Linked DNA regions of Homo sapiens. The protein of the gene in region 1 purifies or fractionates together with the protein of each later gene. This does not show direct contact. Each region holds a gene or a part of one and is shown in the gene's direction. Other genes may lie near its edges. The genes, in order: RGMB, ACVR2B, ACVR2A, BMPR1A and ACVR1.

What was found.
Region 2: the proteins of RGMB (region 1) and ACVR2B purify together in Homo sapiens (affinity purification with western blotting, with the first as the bait; one study listed by BioGRID). This does not show direct contact.
Region 3: the proteins of RGMB (region 1) and ACVR2A purify together in Homo sapiens (affinity purification with western blotting, with the first as the bait; one study listed by BioGRID). This does not show direct contact.
Region 4: the proteins of RGMB (region 1) and BMPR1A purify together in Homo sapiens (affinity purification with western blotting, with the first as the bait; one study listed by BioGRID). This does not show direct contact.
Region 5: the proteins of RGMB (region 1) and ACVR1 purify together in Homo sapiens (affinity purification with western blotting, with the first as the bait; one study listed by BioGRID). This does not show direct contact.

The regions. Positions count from the first base shown.
Region 1 is NC_000005.10:98,790,648-98,793,834, forward strand, and holds part of RGMB (repulsive guidance molecule B isoform 1 precursor), read left to right. Parts: intron 1-2,437; coding exon 2,438-3,106; 3' UTR 3,107-3,187. UniProt on the Homo sapiens protein: Member of the repulsive guidance molecule (RGM) family that contributes to the patterning of the developing nervous system. Acts as a bone morphogenetic protein (BMP) coreceptor that potentiates BMP signaling. Promotes neuronal adhesion.
Region 2 is NC_000003.12:38,460,373-38,463,893, forward strand, and holds part of ACVR2B (activin receptor type-2B precursor), read left to right. Parts: intron 1-3,521. UniProt on the Homo sapiens protein: Transmembrane serine/threonine kinase activin type-2 receptor forming an activin receptor complex with activin type-1 serine/threonine kinase receptors (ACVR1, ACVR1B or ACVR1c).
Region 3 is NC_000002.12:147,851,512-147,855,032, forward strand, and holds part of ACVR2A (activin receptor type-2A isoform 1 precursor), read left to right. Parts: intron 1-3,521. UniProt on the Homo sapiens protein: On ligand binding, forms a receptor complex consisting of two type II and two type I transmembrane serine/threonine kinases.
Region 4 is NC_000010.11:86,913,618-86,917,138, forward strand, and holds part of BMPR1A (bone morphogenetic protein receptor type-1A isoform 3 precursor), read left to right. Parts: intron 1-3,516; coding exon 3,517-3,521. UniProt on the Homo sapiens protein: On ligand binding, forms a receptor complex consisting of two type II and two type I transmembrane serine/threonine kinases.
Region 5 is NC_000002.12:157,764,830-157,768,350, reverse strand, and holds part of ACVR1 (activin receptor type-1 precursor), read left to right. Parts: intron 1-2,154; coding exon 2,155-2,430; intron 2,431-3,521. UniProt on the Homo sapiens protein: Bone morphogenetic protein (BMP) type I receptor that is involved in a wide variety of biological processes, including bone, heart, cartilage, nervous, and reproductive system development and regulation.

The DNA.
Region 1 (3,187 bases):
TGCTTTTTGGAAACTTGTTTGGAATCGGTTATCTTTGCTTTGTTGGCCCAACACAAGTAAATCCTCTTTGTTTTTCCTAAGGTGAACAAAAAAGTAGTTCTTGCAGATAATATCAAGTTGGTTTAAATTTTAGGTTTGTTAGACTAGAAAGACGAATTATTTAGCCGTCATTGAAGAGTTTAATCTTTGAGTAGATGTTACAGGTGAAAATGAGCATAGTGATTATATAAAAAGTCTATTACTAACTCTTATTTTAGCCATCTGTATTGTTGACTTTCAACTTTTTCAGGTGCAAAATTTTCTTGAATCAATCTTTTCATCTCCAAGGGATCCCAGCATGCCTTAAAAAAAAACACTTGTCAACGGATTTTAGAGCCACCAAATAAATCTATTTTATGGTCCCGTTAGATATCTAGCTCAAAACCCCCATTCACTCTGAAAGGTCCTATGGTTGGATGCACAACAAATTTCCTGAAATCATCTCTGATGCACCTCCTTTGGGTTGTTAAGAAGGTGTTGAAATGTGAGAAGGCTGGTAGTGAAATCAAGTTGTGGCTCAGGGTAATTAGGAAGGGAGAAAACCCAGCATTTTCATAGTACATTGTCTGGCTTTTAGTTGCAGCTGCACACAGCGGATATGAATTTAACCGGTTGCTACAGTGCAGCTGGTTCAGATCTGGCTTTATAACTGGCTGAAGTAAAATGAAATGGCTGGAAAATTCCAGTCAAGTAACACCAGTGGGAACAAGTGGAATTAAATAGTGTGAGCAAATGCTGGCCGAGTTGGAGAAAAACTTAAGACATAAACTTGAGGGTGGTGGTGAGGACTTCGGGTGGGCAGGCGGGGGGAGGGGGGTGCATTTTCTGGTCTTTTTCACAAGGGTCTATTGTTTCGATTAGTTTCCTTGCAGGAGGTAGAAGGTTTCCTCCATCCCGAGTAATTCATAGAGTGTTTGGCTTGTCTACCTTCCTCCTGACTGAAGTCACCTGATACTTTTTGTTTTTTCAAGAAGGAAGAGAGAACCCTGTTGCCTCAGTTACTAGCAATGATACAATTCTCAAAATCTGGTCTTTTTTTGTTTCTTTGAAATAGTTTCTCCATGTTGTGTGACACAGCAGCCCCTGTCTTATCATAGTTGTCTTCCCTCCACCACCTGTACCAGAGATGTTGGATATGTTGGAGGTGAAGGTGTGCAAGGTTTTTAACTAACTGTTCTAATTAAAGGATTCTGCAGGAAAGAACATGGGTTTACAAAAGAGAAGCTTTTGTATTATTAGTAATTTTTTTTCTTTGATGAATTTATGTGCTTAGTTTGGAGAATCGAGAGTTGGCTGGGAAAAGATTTCTGAGGAGTTAAGGGACTCTGGTGCTGTTTGGGAAAACATTTGCTGTAACTAGGTTTAGGGTATTCAGTCTCTGCCAGTGCTTAGGAGCTATATTTGCCAGGTGATTTCCCTGTCGCAGGGATTAGCCAGTGATGTGAAACATTTGATTAAGGGACTAATAGAAATCTTTCCTGGGGTACATGAGTGGTGGCTGTTACTGGGGTGCCCCCTCCTCAACTCTTTCTCTCTGTATTTCGAGTAAGTTTGTAGTGGTGAGTCATGGGATACAGTTTTTTAATCCTATGAAGAATCTTGGTAGGAAGCAAAGTTCTGTTAGGTATATTGTTAATTAAGCCCTTTAAAGTTTCTGCATAATAACTCAGAAACGAGCCTTTTTCTTTTCTCAGAACTATGCCATGACTCATCCACTTTGGAAGCAGACAAGATATAAATTATCAATAAAAATTGCCCATAATCTGGCCTGGCACAGTGGCTCATGCCTGTAATCCCAGCACTTTGGGAGATGATGGTGGGAGGATCGCTTGAGGCCAGGAGTTCAAGACCAGCCTGGGCAACGTAGTGAGGAACCCCCGACCTCCACCATCCCCCCCGCCCCCCACCAACCCCCTCACTTCAAAGTTTTTTAAATCAGCCACGCATGGTGGTATATGCCCTTAGTCCTGTGTACTCAGGAGGCTGAAGTGGGAAAGTCCTTTGAGCCCAGGAGTTGAACGTTGCAGTGAGCTATGAATGTGCCACCGCACTCTAGCCTGGGCAAGAGAGCTGACCCTGTCACTTAAAAAAAAAAAAAAAAAAAAACCGATATTCTGATAGCAACACTGCTCACTTGCTCACTCTTTCTCTTAGGAAAGTAAAAAAGTTTTGTCTTGATGCACAGATTTATTTAAACTTTAGTTCTAAATATATAGGACTTTAAAAAATATTTTCTGAAAGTGATATCCATTTTTGAGGTGCAAGCAGTTGGGTCCATTTTGGAGATTCCGCCTTAAGCCATTCAGCTTCAAAATGGCGGGGAGCTCTTGCTACAGAGGGTTACCCCGTTCTGCTTCCTTCCCATTCTGTTAAACCTTGTACATGCTCCTTCCCACAGATCACTATTATCTTCAAAGCCCACCATGAGTGTACAGATCAGAAAGTCTACCAAGCTGTGACAGATGACCTGCCGGCCGCCTTTGTGGATGGCACCACCAGTGGTGGGGACAGCGATGCCAAGAGCCTGCGTATCGTGGAAAGGGAGAGTGGCCACTATGTGGAGATGCACGCCCGCTATATAGGGACCACAGTGTTTGTGCGGCAGGTGGGTCGCTACCTGACCCTTGCCATCCGTATGCCTGAAGACCTGGCCATGTCCTACGAGGAGAGCCAGGACCTGCAGCTGTGCGTGAACGGCTGCCCCCTGAGTGAACGCATCGATGACGGGCAGGGCCAGGTGTCTGCCATCCTGGGACACAGCCTGCCTCGCACCTCCTTGGTGCAGGCCTGGCCTGGCTACACACTGGAGACTGCCAACACTCAATGCCATGAGAAGATGCCAGTGAAGGACATCTATTTCCAGTCCTGTGTCTTCGACCTGCTCACCACTGGTGATGCCAACTTTACTGCCGCAGCCCACAGTGCCTTGGAGGATGTGGAGGCCCTGCACCCAAGGAAGGAACGCTGGCACATTTTCCCCAGCAGTGGCAATGGGACTCCCCGTGGAGGCAGTGATTTGTCTGTCAGTCTAGGACTCACCTGCTTGATCCTTATCGTGTTTTTGTAGGGGTTGTCTTTTGTTTTGGTTTTTTATTTTTTGTCTATAACAAAATTTTAAAATATATATTGTCATAATATATTGAGTAAA
Region 2 (3,521 bases), on another chromosome or scaffold:
CTGCTGCCTTCTTCTGACTCTATTACATTGCTCAGTGATGTCTCTGACTAAGGCAGTGGTAGGTACTGGAAATCAATGGATAAAGCAGGCTGGGATTGTTCAAGGGTCAGCCATGTCTCTTCCCGGCCCAGGACCAATAATGGCTTCCCGCCTTCGGACAGCCCCATGCTTTCCCCTGGTTATTCTAGGCTTGCTGTACACATGCATGTGCCTTTTTCAGATTCTTTCTGGGACTGGCAGCTCCAACTGGGTGTTTTCATTCATGGACGCATGACCTCTGGAAGCGGGTGTGGAAAGGAAGCCTGTCCCACTGGGCAAATGTGAGGCCCTCTTCCCAGGGGAATGTTGTCTGGATGGGTCTGACCTGCTGGACAATGGGCCTTCTCCCTGGCCAGTTTCTGGGCTGGAGCTGAGGTGTTTTGTGAGGCGAGCTCATGCTCTTTGCATGTGTTCCTCTGCCGACTATTTCAGTTCCACTCTGACAACCAAGGAGGCTAAAATTAGTTCTGGAGAAGGAAAAGGAAGGCTGGTTGGAAACCCAAGCCCTTGGCTGGAGAATGGAGGAGGCTGCTTCCCAGGTTTGTGCCTGAGCATTTCGGAGGATGGGATGAGACCAGCTGTTATCCGTCCATCTGAGGAGAAGGAGGGGTCCCTGTGGCCTCCCAGACTTGAACCAATTAAAACAGGAGACTAACTTGGAAGCTGACTCTCTCGAGTGTTGATGCCAGGATATTTTTTCCTTCTGGCTTGTGCAGTGGCGCACAGTGTTTTCAGGTATGAGGACAATGCCTTTTAATGAATGTCCAGTGCCATTGACAACCCTCCTCCCCCTCCCCTCCAACTGGATTATGTGTCCGTTGATTTAGAAAGCATGCATGAGTTTTCCCAGCCTGGGCTGGCAACCATGGTTTAAGAACTCTTATTTTATGCACTTTTTGGGAATTTCCTTCTCACTGAGGTTTGATATTGGGTTAGAGGGGAGTCCTGTGGCCCAGGGCTCACACAAGAGGTCCCGCTTCTCTGTGTAGTGAGGGCATAGTGAATCAAGGCTCATCTGCTCTGGGCCTTAGAAACCAGAGGAGCAGAAGGGTTAGAGAGATGAATTCTGGTTTCTTTTCCCACCTGGCTGGCTCCTTCTGTGAACCTTCTGGCTGAGGGTGAGACCTACAGGGCTGTGTGGGAGTAGAAGGAGGGCCAGGGCAATGTAGTCCTATCTCCCCTGCCCTGAAACCTCGCATCCAAACCTCCCATCACTGAGAGGTTAGCCACCCTGGGGTATAGTTGGGGGAGTAGAAGTCACTTCCCCCATAACTAATTTTCCCATTTAAAAAAAATTTATTACTTTTTAAACAAGTAATATACCTACATTATATTGCAGAAATTTAGATGTTACAGATAATACTAGGGTCTCCTTTTATCACTTCTGTTCCCCATCCGAGGCCCCCTCCAAAGGTAATCCTTTTAAGATTGAGATGTATTCTTCCAGACATTTTTACTTGTGCATCTATAGAAATACTTATAGAAATAGAGAGGCTTTTGGCCGGGCGTGGTGGCTCATGCCTGTAATCCCAGCACTTTGGGAGGCCAAGGTGGGCGGATCACCTGAGGTCAGGAGTTCAAGACCAGCCTGACCAACATGGAGAAACCCCGTCTCTACTAAAAATACAAAAAATTAGCCCGGCGTGGTGGTGGGTCCCTGTAGTCCCAGCTACTCAAGAGGCTGAGGCAGGAGAATGGCGTGAACCCGGGAGGCGGAGCTTGCAGTGAGCCAAGATAGCACCACTGCACTCCAGCCTGGGCAACAGAGCGAGACTCCATCTCAAAATAAATAAATAAATAAACAAACAAATAAATAAATAAATAAATAGGCTTTTTTCCACCTAAAATGGTATTCAAGCATTTAATTGAAGTATAAAACATATACAGAAGAATGTACAAGTAATTACCATAAGTAACAGCTAAGAAGCATTTTCACAAATTGAATACACTGGTTTAGTCAGCATCCAAGTCAAGAATCAGAAATTTTCCAGCCCCCCATCCCCAGCAAGCCCTGTTTTGTTCCATTTCAGTCTCTGCCCACACCCACTAAGGTTAACTACTATTCTAACTTCTAACAGCATAAAATAGTTTCATCTGTTTCTGTGCTTCATATGAATAGAACCTTACAGAATAAACTGCTTTGTGTCCATCTTTTCCTCACCATGTTTGTGACTTTAAGCTATGTTGGATGTCATGGCTTTTTAAACTCGGAGATTTGCTTTGGCAAACTTTCTGATACATATGGATCTACTTTGATCTTTTTAATAACTACGTAATATTCTAAAGTTTAAATATAGACTACATTTTACCTAGTTTCTTACTGATGGACTTTGTGATTGTATAGAATGTATGCAGACTGTTTCTCAAGAGTAGATGAGAAAATAACATCTGGATCATAAGCACGTATGTTATTGGTTTTAATAGATACTGAAAAATGGTTATACCATTTTATTTATTTATTTTTTGAGGCTACCCAAGTGATGGCAGTGAGGGTAGAAGCTGGGTGATATGGCAGTTGGCTCTCTGCGGTAATCTGTGAACATCCTTCCTACCTCCACACCCCAACCCCTGCTGAAATGCTAGGTTACAGAGTTTAGAAATAGCCTGGTTTCATGAAGGGTGCGCGGACATGGGAAGGGCTCACTTCCACTGGCTTAATGTATGAGGAGACCTGGAGATAACCTCTCGTGCCTGTGTCTCCTACCTTGTGCCTGAGTCTCCTGGGTACTGTGCTGATGAGGGAGGTAGCACTGGACTAGCCAGGATGTGCTGGTCTGGGTTTGGGATGGAAGTGCATATGTATGTTCACTTACCAGGCTCTATGCTGCGTGCAGACTCTGAAGAGACTAAGGCACTTGTTGAAGGTCGCTGAAGAGCTCTGGGTAACAGCACTACTGGCAAGCCCACTGCATTTGACAAAATCTGAGTGTGACAAATTCTGATTTCATATGTCGTGATAATGACGTTGGGGGTATTGGAGAAACCTGTAGAAAAACTATTTTAGAGTCTGGTGAGAAGCTTTTCATGACAGAAGGAGCTCTGGTGAGTTTCTGTTCCTGGCTGAGTGTATGCCTTGTTCCCTGTATAAGTCTCTGCCACAGTTGGCAGAAGACTTAGGGAAGATAGTTTGGGATGACTTGTTCACCAAAGCTGTTGCTTCCCAGTCTTGTTCTTCAGCTTGCTGCCTACTCTTTACTGTTATGTTGGGATTCTTTATGTAAGTCCACTTGTCAGGCCCTGCTAATGGATTTAGATGACACTCAAGTTTGTGGAACTGTTTCTAGTACAAATGATACTCCAATCAGCTTTCCCACATTATACATATGATGTGCGCTGTTTGTGTCTTAGTCTGCTCAGGTTGCCATAATGGAATACCATAGATTGGGTGGCTTAAACAACTGAAATTTCTTTTCTTACAATTCTGGGGACTGGAAGTTAAAGATGAAGGTGCTGTCAGGATTCGTTTCCAGTGATTCTTCTCT
Region 3 (3,521 bases), on another chromosome or scaffold:
AGTTTCTTAAATGTGTAATCCTTTATTGTATATCAGTATGGTGCCTTTGTACATATTACTCTTCCTCTTCTACCTGGCTAACCCCTTTTTGGTTTTAAGACTGAGAAGTATCACCTCTTTAGAAACATTTTCTCTGTCACTCAACCCAGATTGAGTTAGTTGCTTTCTGTTCATCTAACACCTTGTAAATGACCTTGATTTCAGTAATAATTGCAAATGTTTACTTGCCTGTTTCCACTTTAGACTGTGCAAATGTTTACTTTCCTGTTTCTACTCTTTGAAGACATCTTTCCTTTATCCACACACCCATTCCTGGAACCTGGTACACAATAGGTGCTCAGCAAATGTTTATTAAATGAATGAAATGAAATTATTTCACTTCTCTGAGCCACGGTTGTCCTCTTAATGTATTGAAGTGGTGAACTTGGATTAGATGATCCCTGATTTTTTTTCCTACTCTGAAAGCTTTATGGTTCTATAATTTTAAGGTTAGAGTTCAGTGGTGACATTTTATTAAGAAAAGATGATTTTGCTCATTGTTTTGATATCTTTAAGTTATGTTCAAATTTAAATTTTTTTAAATAATTAAAATTAGAATTTGAATTATATAGATTTAGAGGGGATCTTAGGTATCCTCATGTTCCATGGCTTTCATACTTTTTTGACTGTAATACACAATAGGAATTACACATTGCATTATGACTTAGTTCCCATGTAGTAGTAGGGGTGTATGTATATATGTCTGTGTGCATCAGAAATGAAAGTTTCATGAACTGTGTACTCTTAACTATGTGCAGGACACTTATGTATTTTTATATTACATTTCATTTAAAAAACATTGATCGTGACCCATTAATTGATTCATTGACCAACTAATGGATTGTAAATCCCTAAAACCAGTGACCTAGTTCAACAATCCTTATTTCCTGTATTCAGTACTCTCTTAGTGGAAAAGGAAGCTTCATATGTAAATGTGTGCAATGAAAAATATATGCACTGAAAAATATGGTCATTAATTAATCTACAATAGAGACTGTGTGCCTAGGTATAGAATATAGGGAAAACTGGTCTCAAGGGAGAACATGGCTCTTCCCTGATTAAGGTCTTCTCTCTTTTGGACTAGTCGAATAAATTAAGCACACACGAAGGCGCTGAAACAACATTAGATTGTAATTTTGGGGAGTTGGGATTTTTTAATTTAGGAAAGACTTGCTGGACTTAGTACTGGAAAAAAAGTCTTAGACGGAGATTAGGAAGGATGTTAATATGAAGGAAAAGACACAAAATAGCATCAGGAACACAATAGCCATTTGAGAGTAAACTTGACCATGGATGAAGGCAAGGTGGGATGGAGAAATTTTGACTAAATCTGAGGAAGAGATTTGTGTGATGAAGAGAGTTCACAATTGCTTGAAGAAGTAGGACAATCTCAGGGGGTTAACCCTTAAATTCAAATGAAAAGTAATTAAAACTGAGGAGGTAAGAGTGGATGATACATATCCTGATGTATGTCCCAAATACCCCATATGTGGATATAGGACTGAAAAGCAACTCGAAGACTAAGGTAGAATGGTAGCACTACTAAATAAAATTGGTAAGGAAGTAATGAGCCAGAGGAAAATTGAAAGTGCCTTCATAACTAAAAAAGTTTACAGATAGATATAGTTTTAGATGATAAGCATGAATAGAAATAAAGACATGTATTTGGAAAAATAAGAGTACATAATAAAACATGATAACGTAATATTCTCTTAAAGAGGCAGACACTGTATGATGGATATGTCTTCATTGTGAAGTCTAGTTAAAGAATTCTAAACATTAGTGGCTCAATATGTTGTTTATGTTTAAATGATGGTCAAATTTCAGTAATTACTCATACTGGTCATCCAGATTATATTCTTTGAAATCTGTATGAGACCCTACAGTAAAATACACTGTTCTAAGGAAGTAGATTTAGATGCTTTTCTGAATTTGGTATATGGTATTCACGCTTGAAACCTAAACTTTTCAGTGACCATTCTTTTGGACTAGTTTTTTCTTTGGTTGGCTGTAGTCACACTGGGAATTACTTTATTCTCTAATATTGCTAAAGAAAATAAATGTAAAGCAAGAAGAGAGTTACTACATTAGAAGGACTGGCTACACATGTGGGGAGGGGTTGCCTTTCAAAAGATTTTAAAAATGAATCAAGTCTTTACATATTGTAATAAAAGTAAGCCTATTTATAAAGCTTAGAGGGAGGAGTTTTCGTAGTTATGATTATTAACTTTAAAATTTTTATTTTAAAGGAAAAGTTTATTGTTCTTCCCATCTTCATAACTATATGTGATATATCAAGCTTGCTCCAAGGCATTATTTCAAGAGGAAGGGGCATGGACAAGTTATGAGATCTTGGCACATTTCTAAAACTCTGAGATTAACTTTTAAAATTTGTAAACCAAGATGTATTAAATGAATTGATAACTCCACATAACATGGTAGCTGGTCCAGAGTAGATCTTACATATTAGTTTTTAATCTATCTTTAAGTCCCATTTAAAAGGATATGGTATGTAAAACATTAAAAAATATAGATTTGGTTCTTGGGGGATATTTACATTTGCAGGTTACTTATCAGTCAGTTAATGTGAAATAATACTCTGACTAAATGATACAGCCAAAGAACATATCATTATAGAGAGCCAGATAGCTGCCAATAAATATCTAGAATATTCAGATATCGTGGTTCCTTACAAAGAGTTCTTTAAGGTCTCACTGTTTTAGCATGCATTAAAAAGAAACAATGGACTAAATCGTCTCTATTTATTAGTGGGAATTTAAAATATCTTTTTTTCTTGGACAACTTCTCTTAAACTTTTTAAGTGTTTTAAAACTTTTTAGTAGAAGTAAAGTTTTGAAAGATTCTCAAGTCTGTTTTTTAGGTACCAGCTACTTTAAGCTTTGAAAACACAAAGCTATTCAATGACTGTACTTTGAGATCAATATTTTGAATGTGGTATAATATTTTGGACTAAAACTTAAGAGTCTGTCATTCAAATTCCTACTTTCCTACTGACTCTTCTTTGACCTTTGACAGCCATTAAGATTTCACTTTACTCACCCTAAATTAAAGAGGGTGAAATAGGTATTCATTCACTTAACAAATCAATATTGAACTACATGCTAGACACTATGGTAAGTGCTTGGGATACATTATTAAACATGAAGACAGATATGATTATGCCTTTCTGAAGCTTATAGTCATAAAGTAAGTAGTCAAATGAACAACATAATTACAGATTGTCATACGTGCTCGGACAGAAACTAACAGGGTGCCGAGAGGATTACTCTTTATTTGCCTTATCACATATCACATCTGTTTACTTTATCTGCCTATTTCTTTTTTTTTTGAGACTGAGTCTCGCTCTGTTGGCCAGGCTGGAGTGCAGTGGTGCAATCTTGGCTTACCACAACCCCAGCCTTCCAGTTCAAGTGATTCTCCTGCCTCAGCCTCCTGAGTAACTGGGACTACAGGCATGCGCC
Region 4 (3,521 bases), on another chromosome or scaffold:
ATTGAATTTATAGGCTCTAGCAACAAACAATTAGGTAATTATAAAAACAGTATTTAAAATAGCATCAAAAACCATGAAATATTTAGAATAAGCCTAACAATTTATGCAAGACCTGCACACTGAAAATTATAAAACATTGCTGAAAGAAATTAATAAAGCCCTAAATAAGTGGAGATGTTTATAAATCTGAGGACTCAGTATTAAGATTTCAGTTTTCCTCAAATTGGTGTGTAATTTCATTCGAATCCAAATGAAAATCAGAGCAAACTTTTATAGCAATTGATGTATATTCTAACATTTATATGGAAATGCAAAGGACTAGAAGAGCCAAAACAATTTTGAAGTAGAAGAACAAAGAGGAATCACTACCTGATTTCTGGACTTACCGTAAAACTCAATAATGATCTCAATTTGGTACTGGCATAAGGATAGATGTATTGATGAATGGAACAGATTATGGAGTTTAGAAAGGAACATGCACTTAATATGGTTAATTGATTAAAAAAAAAAAAACAAAAAGATGCCCAAGTAATTCAATTGGAAAAAGGCAGTCCATTTAACAGATGGTGCAGGAAATATCAGGAATCCATTTACCAAGAAGTTAATCTCAGTCCTTACCTCCTCACTCTATACCAAATTAACTTGAAATGTAGCATAGACCTAAATGTAAAAGTTGAAGTATAAAACCTCTAAAAGAAAATGTCTGAAAAAATTATTCTGACCTTGGGCAGACTTCTTCAGTACATAAAAAACACAAATCATTTTTTTAATGATAAATCAGGCTTTATCAAAATTTAAAACTTCTGCTATTTAGAAGACAAGAAAATGAGAAGACAAGTCACAGATTGGCAAAACAGATCTGATACAGGGTTTTTGTGCAAAATATATAAAGACCTTTTGCAACTCAATAATAAGATAACCCAATTTTTTTAAAAAATGGACAAAAGATTTGAACAGACACTTCCCCAAAGAAGATATAAGAATGGCAAACAAGCACATGAAAAGATGCTCAGCATCAGCAGGGATATACAAATTAAACACAGTAAGATACTACTGCACATCCACTAGTATAGCTAAGACTGATAATATTAAGTGGTGCCAAAGATGTAGATCAACTAGAAATCTCATACATTGCTGGTTGGAATGCAAAATGGTATGGCTATTTTGAAAAATAGTTTGACAATTGCCTGGAAAGTTAAGGGCATACTTTCCGTACAATGAAGCAATCCTTCTGCTAATTATTTACCCAAGAGATATGAAAACTTGTCCACACCAGAGGCCTGAATGTGAATGTTTATAGCAGTTTTATTTATAATAGACATAAACTGGAAACAACCCCAAAGCTCATGAATTGCTAAATGAATAAACAAATGCTGGTACATTCATACAGTGGAATATTACTCATCAGTAAAAAGGAACAACTTCTAACACATGTAGCAGCAACAGTGGGTGAATTTCAAAAGTACTTTATGCTACATGAAAGAAGCCAGACACAAAAGGCTACACAAAAGTGATTCTCCTGCCTCAGCCTCCCAAGTAGCTGGGATTAAGGCATGCACCACCATGCCCAGCTAATTTTTGTATTTTTTTTTAAGTAGAGACAGGGTTTCACCATGTTGGCCAGGCTGGTCTTGAACTCCTGACCTCAGGTGATCCACCCGCCTCGGCCTCCCAAAGTGTTGGGATTACAGGCGTGAGCCACCACGCCTGGCCAAAAAGTGAGAATTTTTTTACGTTATTAAAATATTCTGTATCTTAATTGTGGTATTGGTGATTACATGATATAGATTTGTCCAAGGCTTGTTGAACTTTTCTCAAAAAGGGTACATTTTATATAAATTATACCTCAATAATCTTGACTTAAAAACTTACAGGCTGAGGCAGGCAGATCACTTGAGGTCAGGTGTTCGAGACCAGTCTGGCCAACATGGTGAAACCCTGTCTCTACTAAAAATACAAAAATTAGCTGGACGTGGTGGCAGATGCCTGTAATCCCAGCTGCTCGGGAGGCTGAGGCAGGAAATTGTTTTAACTGGGGAGGCAGAAGTTGCAGTGAGCTGAGATTGGCCGCCGCACTCCAGCCTGAGCAACGGAGCGAGACTCTGTCTCAAAAAAACAGAACAAAATTTACAAAAGGATTCTATAATAAATGATACATAAAGTCACTTTAGCTTTGCACTAAATCTAGTCCATTTTAGAAGCATTTCCAACTTGGAGCATAATGTTCTTTTTAATTTAGAATGATCACTAATGCTTCTGAAAATGAAAGATAACAATCCATGTACATCTTTTATTTAACAAATATTAAAGTACTTCTGATATTGTCCCAAATAAATACTTATATTCTGTGAGCAGGGGATGGAATTCAAGCAAATATATATGTAAATAAGAATAAAGTTATGATTGTGTTAAGCGCAGCAACTGAGAGGTTTTGTGTGCTATGAAGGTGTTTAAGTGAGAAAATAGCACTCTAAGTAAAGGGAACTGGATATTCAAAAAAACCCAGCGACAGGAATAAGCTTGAGTGAATTCTAAAAGTTGAGATAAGTCAAACGAGGTTTGTGGGTGGGTGGTCAAAGCAAATAATGGGACCAGGCCAGATCAGGCAGGGTCTTATAGATGGGATTTTTAAGATCTTTAACTGTTATTTGGACTTTGCTGCATAATAAACCACCCCAAAACTTAGTGATGTGAAGCAACAAACATTATTTCTCATTCTGTGAGTCTGTGGGGCAGTTCATTTGTTGGACTTGCTTAGCTAGAGCTAGGTGGTGTAGTTCACACCCTTGGCCGACAGTTCATGCTGCCATTATTTTTTGGTCACAGGGTTCCCAAAGCAGCAGGAAGGGGGCAAGCCCCAGTCCACAAACATTTGTCAGGTCTTTGCTTGCATCACGTTCGCTGTTGTTCTTTTATCCAAAGCAAGTCATGTGGCCTAAGCCCTGAGTCTGTGGACCAAGACTACCCACGACTGTGTGCACTGGGAGGGTAATTATTATGACCATTTTTGCAAACAGCCAGCCACTTGAATAACCTGTTTATGATTTCAGAATACATTGTACATTGTTTCATACTTTAAAGTACATTATGGCCGGGCATGGTGGCTCACGCCTGTAATCCCAGCATTATGGGAGGCCGGGGGTGGGGTGGATCACCTGAGGTCAGGAGTTCAAGACCAGCCTGGTCAACGTGGCTAAACCCCATCTCTACTAAAAATACAAAAAAATTAGCTGGGCATGGTGGCGGGTGTCTGTAATCCCAGCTACTTGGGAGGCTGAGGCAGGAGAATCACTTGAATCTAAAAGGTGAAGGTTGCAGTGAGCCGAGATCGCGCCACTGCACTCCATCCTGGGTGACAGAGCGAGACTCCATCTCAAAAAAAAAAAAGTACATTATAAGTTTTTAACTGGAGTTGGTTGGGTACACCATGCTTTTTGATGAGATGGACTACCCCTTTGCCAGTCTTAATGGGTTTCTTTCATCAAGAGCTCAAACCTTTTACTTTTTTCTATAAAGGTTCA
Region 5 (3,521 bases), on another chromosome or scaffold:
TATTTGGTTCAAACTGTTAAAGCAGAAACATTTTCTTTATTAAGAATAACTAATGTCCAAGAACACATTTTGATGCATATTGTGGCCAGCTAAGGGCTCCAAGAGAAGCAGCATCGAGGGGAAAAGCAGACTGGGGAGCAGGGAAGGAGTGGGAGACTCAGGGCTGGCCATGGGAATAGGCTTAGAGGAAGAGAGAGAAAGAAGTAGAGGGTGAAGGTGCTAAAATATTATTCAGTTTGCTTTGCATATGTCCCATAGGTGAAAATGTGAAATTATTTTTTCTCTGAGTAGAAATCAGTTTGTTTGGGGACAGTATGGCATAGTCAGTAAGAGTCTGGGTTCTAGAATCAGACCTACAGGAACCTAATATCAATTATGCGATCTACTTACTTCATGTGGTTTTTGGAGGATTGCATATAAAGTTCCAGGCATGTAGTACTCAATAATTATTAGCTGCCTCTGTTGTGGTTGCCGATGATGATGATGATCAAATAGGGGACCTTTCTTGGCTCACAGAGCCTTCCTATGCAAGGTATCAGGACAGCTAGCACTAAATTCAGAGTTGATAGCAACTTAAATAGCTGTGTGATCCTTGGCATCTCCCAGCACCAACTTTATTATCTGTAAAATGAGCATAATGATGTCTTTCTTACCAGCTTGTTGGGAAAAATCTCATGAGAAAATATATGTGAAAGTGACATAAATTTTATATAAAGTACTATGCAAGTATAAAGCATTTTAATGTATTTTCTCTTACATTTTCATAAGTCATTTAATTCTTCCTCAAGCCATATCCGTCTTAAAAAATTTTTTTTCTCACCTCTTTTTAAGTCCCAAACTTCACTGTCTACCAGCGTGGTTCATATATGTGAGAATAATCCTAGAAAGGCACCTCTGTAGCAGAAAAGGCAAGCACACGTCACAATTTATTTCATAAGATAGGAAGTGCCCCTAACTTCCAGACAGTCTTCTGCATGCTCAAAAGTTCCCTCCAGATGTCTAGAAAAATCTCTTCCGGGCTGATCGCGATGTCTCACGCTTGTAATCCCAGCACTTTGGGAGGCCAAGGCAGGTGGATCACCTGAAGGTCAGGAGTTTGAGACCAGCGTGGCCAACGTGGGGAAACCTCATCTCTACTTAAAATATAAAAAATTAGCCCGGCGTGATGGTGGGCCCCTGTAATCCCAGCTACTCGGGAGGCTGAGGCAGGAGAATCACTTGAACCCAGGAGGCGGTGGTTGCAGTGAACCGAGATCGCGCCATTGCACTCCAGCCTGGGCAACAAGAGGGAAACTTCGTCTCAAAAAAAAAGAAAAAGAAAAAGAAAAATCTTCTCCAACCTCTTCATCCACATTTGTCAGTCACTCACTTTACTTCAAGACCAGTTGAGTTGCCACTTCCTAATGGAAGCCTATTGTAACACCTAGTCTGAATTACTATAATTTCCTGCTCTGGGCTCATGTTGCCCTTTGAAGATATATATTATAGTACTTTTCGTATTTTATTGTAGTGTTTTCGTTTTTACATCTGTCTTCTTTAGCCAGCAAACACTATCATCTTGGTTTTTCTGTGTGTGACTGACAGATAGCATCATAAATACTCATATATTTGGTTGGTTTCTTTTTTTATTTCGTGAATCAGTCAATCATTTAATGTAAACTTGCCCCCTTTATTTTACATCTGAGCAGATATAGGCTAAGGAGCCTAACTGAGTTGCCCAGTATTAGACAAGTAAATCACAGGCAGAGTCAGGACTAGAATACAGTACTCAGGTTTTAGATTTGATGTTCTTTTAGGATGGTTGATGAATGGTCTGTTCCTAAAATATCAACATGCTGAAGGGCTTGGCACTATCATTATGGGTGAGCACAAAGATATTATTGCTATCTGAAACTTAAGGAATGTAAAATATCTTTTAAAGTATTACTTATAATGAAATGAATATGAAATTTTCCTATTAGCAGTGCCCTTTTAAGGAATAAATGCTATTATTTTTCTCTGTTGATGCTTCTGTAAACCTCCTCTTAGGGCAATTGGTCAGTTTAATTACTTTTTGTTACAGATGACATTTACTGTGTAGGTCGCTATTTCTAAATACTTTAAGTTATAATGTGGAATCCTCATGTATATTAATTTTTTTCTTGCTCTCTCCAGGTTTCATTGCTTCAGACATGACATCAAGACACTCCAGTACCCAGCTGTGGTTAATTACACATTATCATGAAATGGGATCGTTGTACGACTATCTTCAGCTTACTACTCTGGATACAGTTAGCTGCCTTCGAATAGTGCTGTCCATAGCTAGTGGTCTTGCACATTTGCACATAGAGATATTTGGGACCCAAGGGAAACCAGCCATTGCCCATCGAGATTTAAAGAGCAAAAATATTCTGGTTAAGAAGAATGGACAGTGTTGCATAGCAGATTTGGGTAAATTTCTAAAAATATTTTTTTCCTCACCAGTTTTATTTTTGTTTCAATGGTTAGGTGAGTTGCATCTCTCCCCCACAACATGTTATGCAAAATTTCAAACATGCAGAAAAGTTGAACATTTACAATGAACACCTTTATACCCACCACATAGATTCTCACATTAACATTTTACTATCCTTAAGCATTATTATGTATTTATTCATCTATTCATCTCCCCATCCATCAGTCCATATCAACCTTTGATAGAGTTGAAAGTAAATTGCAGACAAAGGAATTCTTTCTTCTGATGATTTCAGCATGTACACTAGTATATCATTGACAAGAATGCATTATTTGCTTTTTCTTTTTTTCAGGTAAAATTTATATACTGTGAGATATACAAATCTTAAGAGTTTTGACAAATGTTGTAAAACCCAAATCCCTGTCGAGATACAGAGTTTCCCATTACTCTTGACAGTTACCTCAGGCTCATTCAGTCAGTCCCTGCCACACCCCACCTCAGAAGTAACCAGTACTGTTGCATTTTGGTTTCACTAACCTTCACATAAAGTAGGTGCACAATAAATACTCTATAGAATTAGTTTATCTTAAAAGTGGTCTCTAAAATCATTCTGTAACCAAGGCAAAAGAATCAAGTTAAGAAATAGGAAAATAATCCCCGAACTGATTCACTCTTTTCCCTGTTAGGATAGCTCATTCTTATGGTGTTAGAGTAGTACTCAGTGTAGCTTTAGTTGCATTATAAATAAGAGTATTTTCATTTATAGTGGCATTTTATATAAAACCATGTTCTTCCTGGATTCCTAGAATATTGGCTAAATAATTGTGCTAATGAGAATTCAGGGCCCTCTACTTGATTAAACATGGTTTATATGATATTTATATTATTGCAATTATTGTTAGCCTGATAAAGGTTTAGACAAAAATAGCTTTAGTTATGTAAATAACAAAGTTTATTTTTGTTTGTTTTTAAACATAAGGGATTTGACATGTTAGGAAAATTTATTTCCTTTGAATCCCTTTAAAGTCTTTGCTTTTACATTGAGAAATTACAATGTTTCCCAAGTAGGAGACGAAAGATTTTAGGA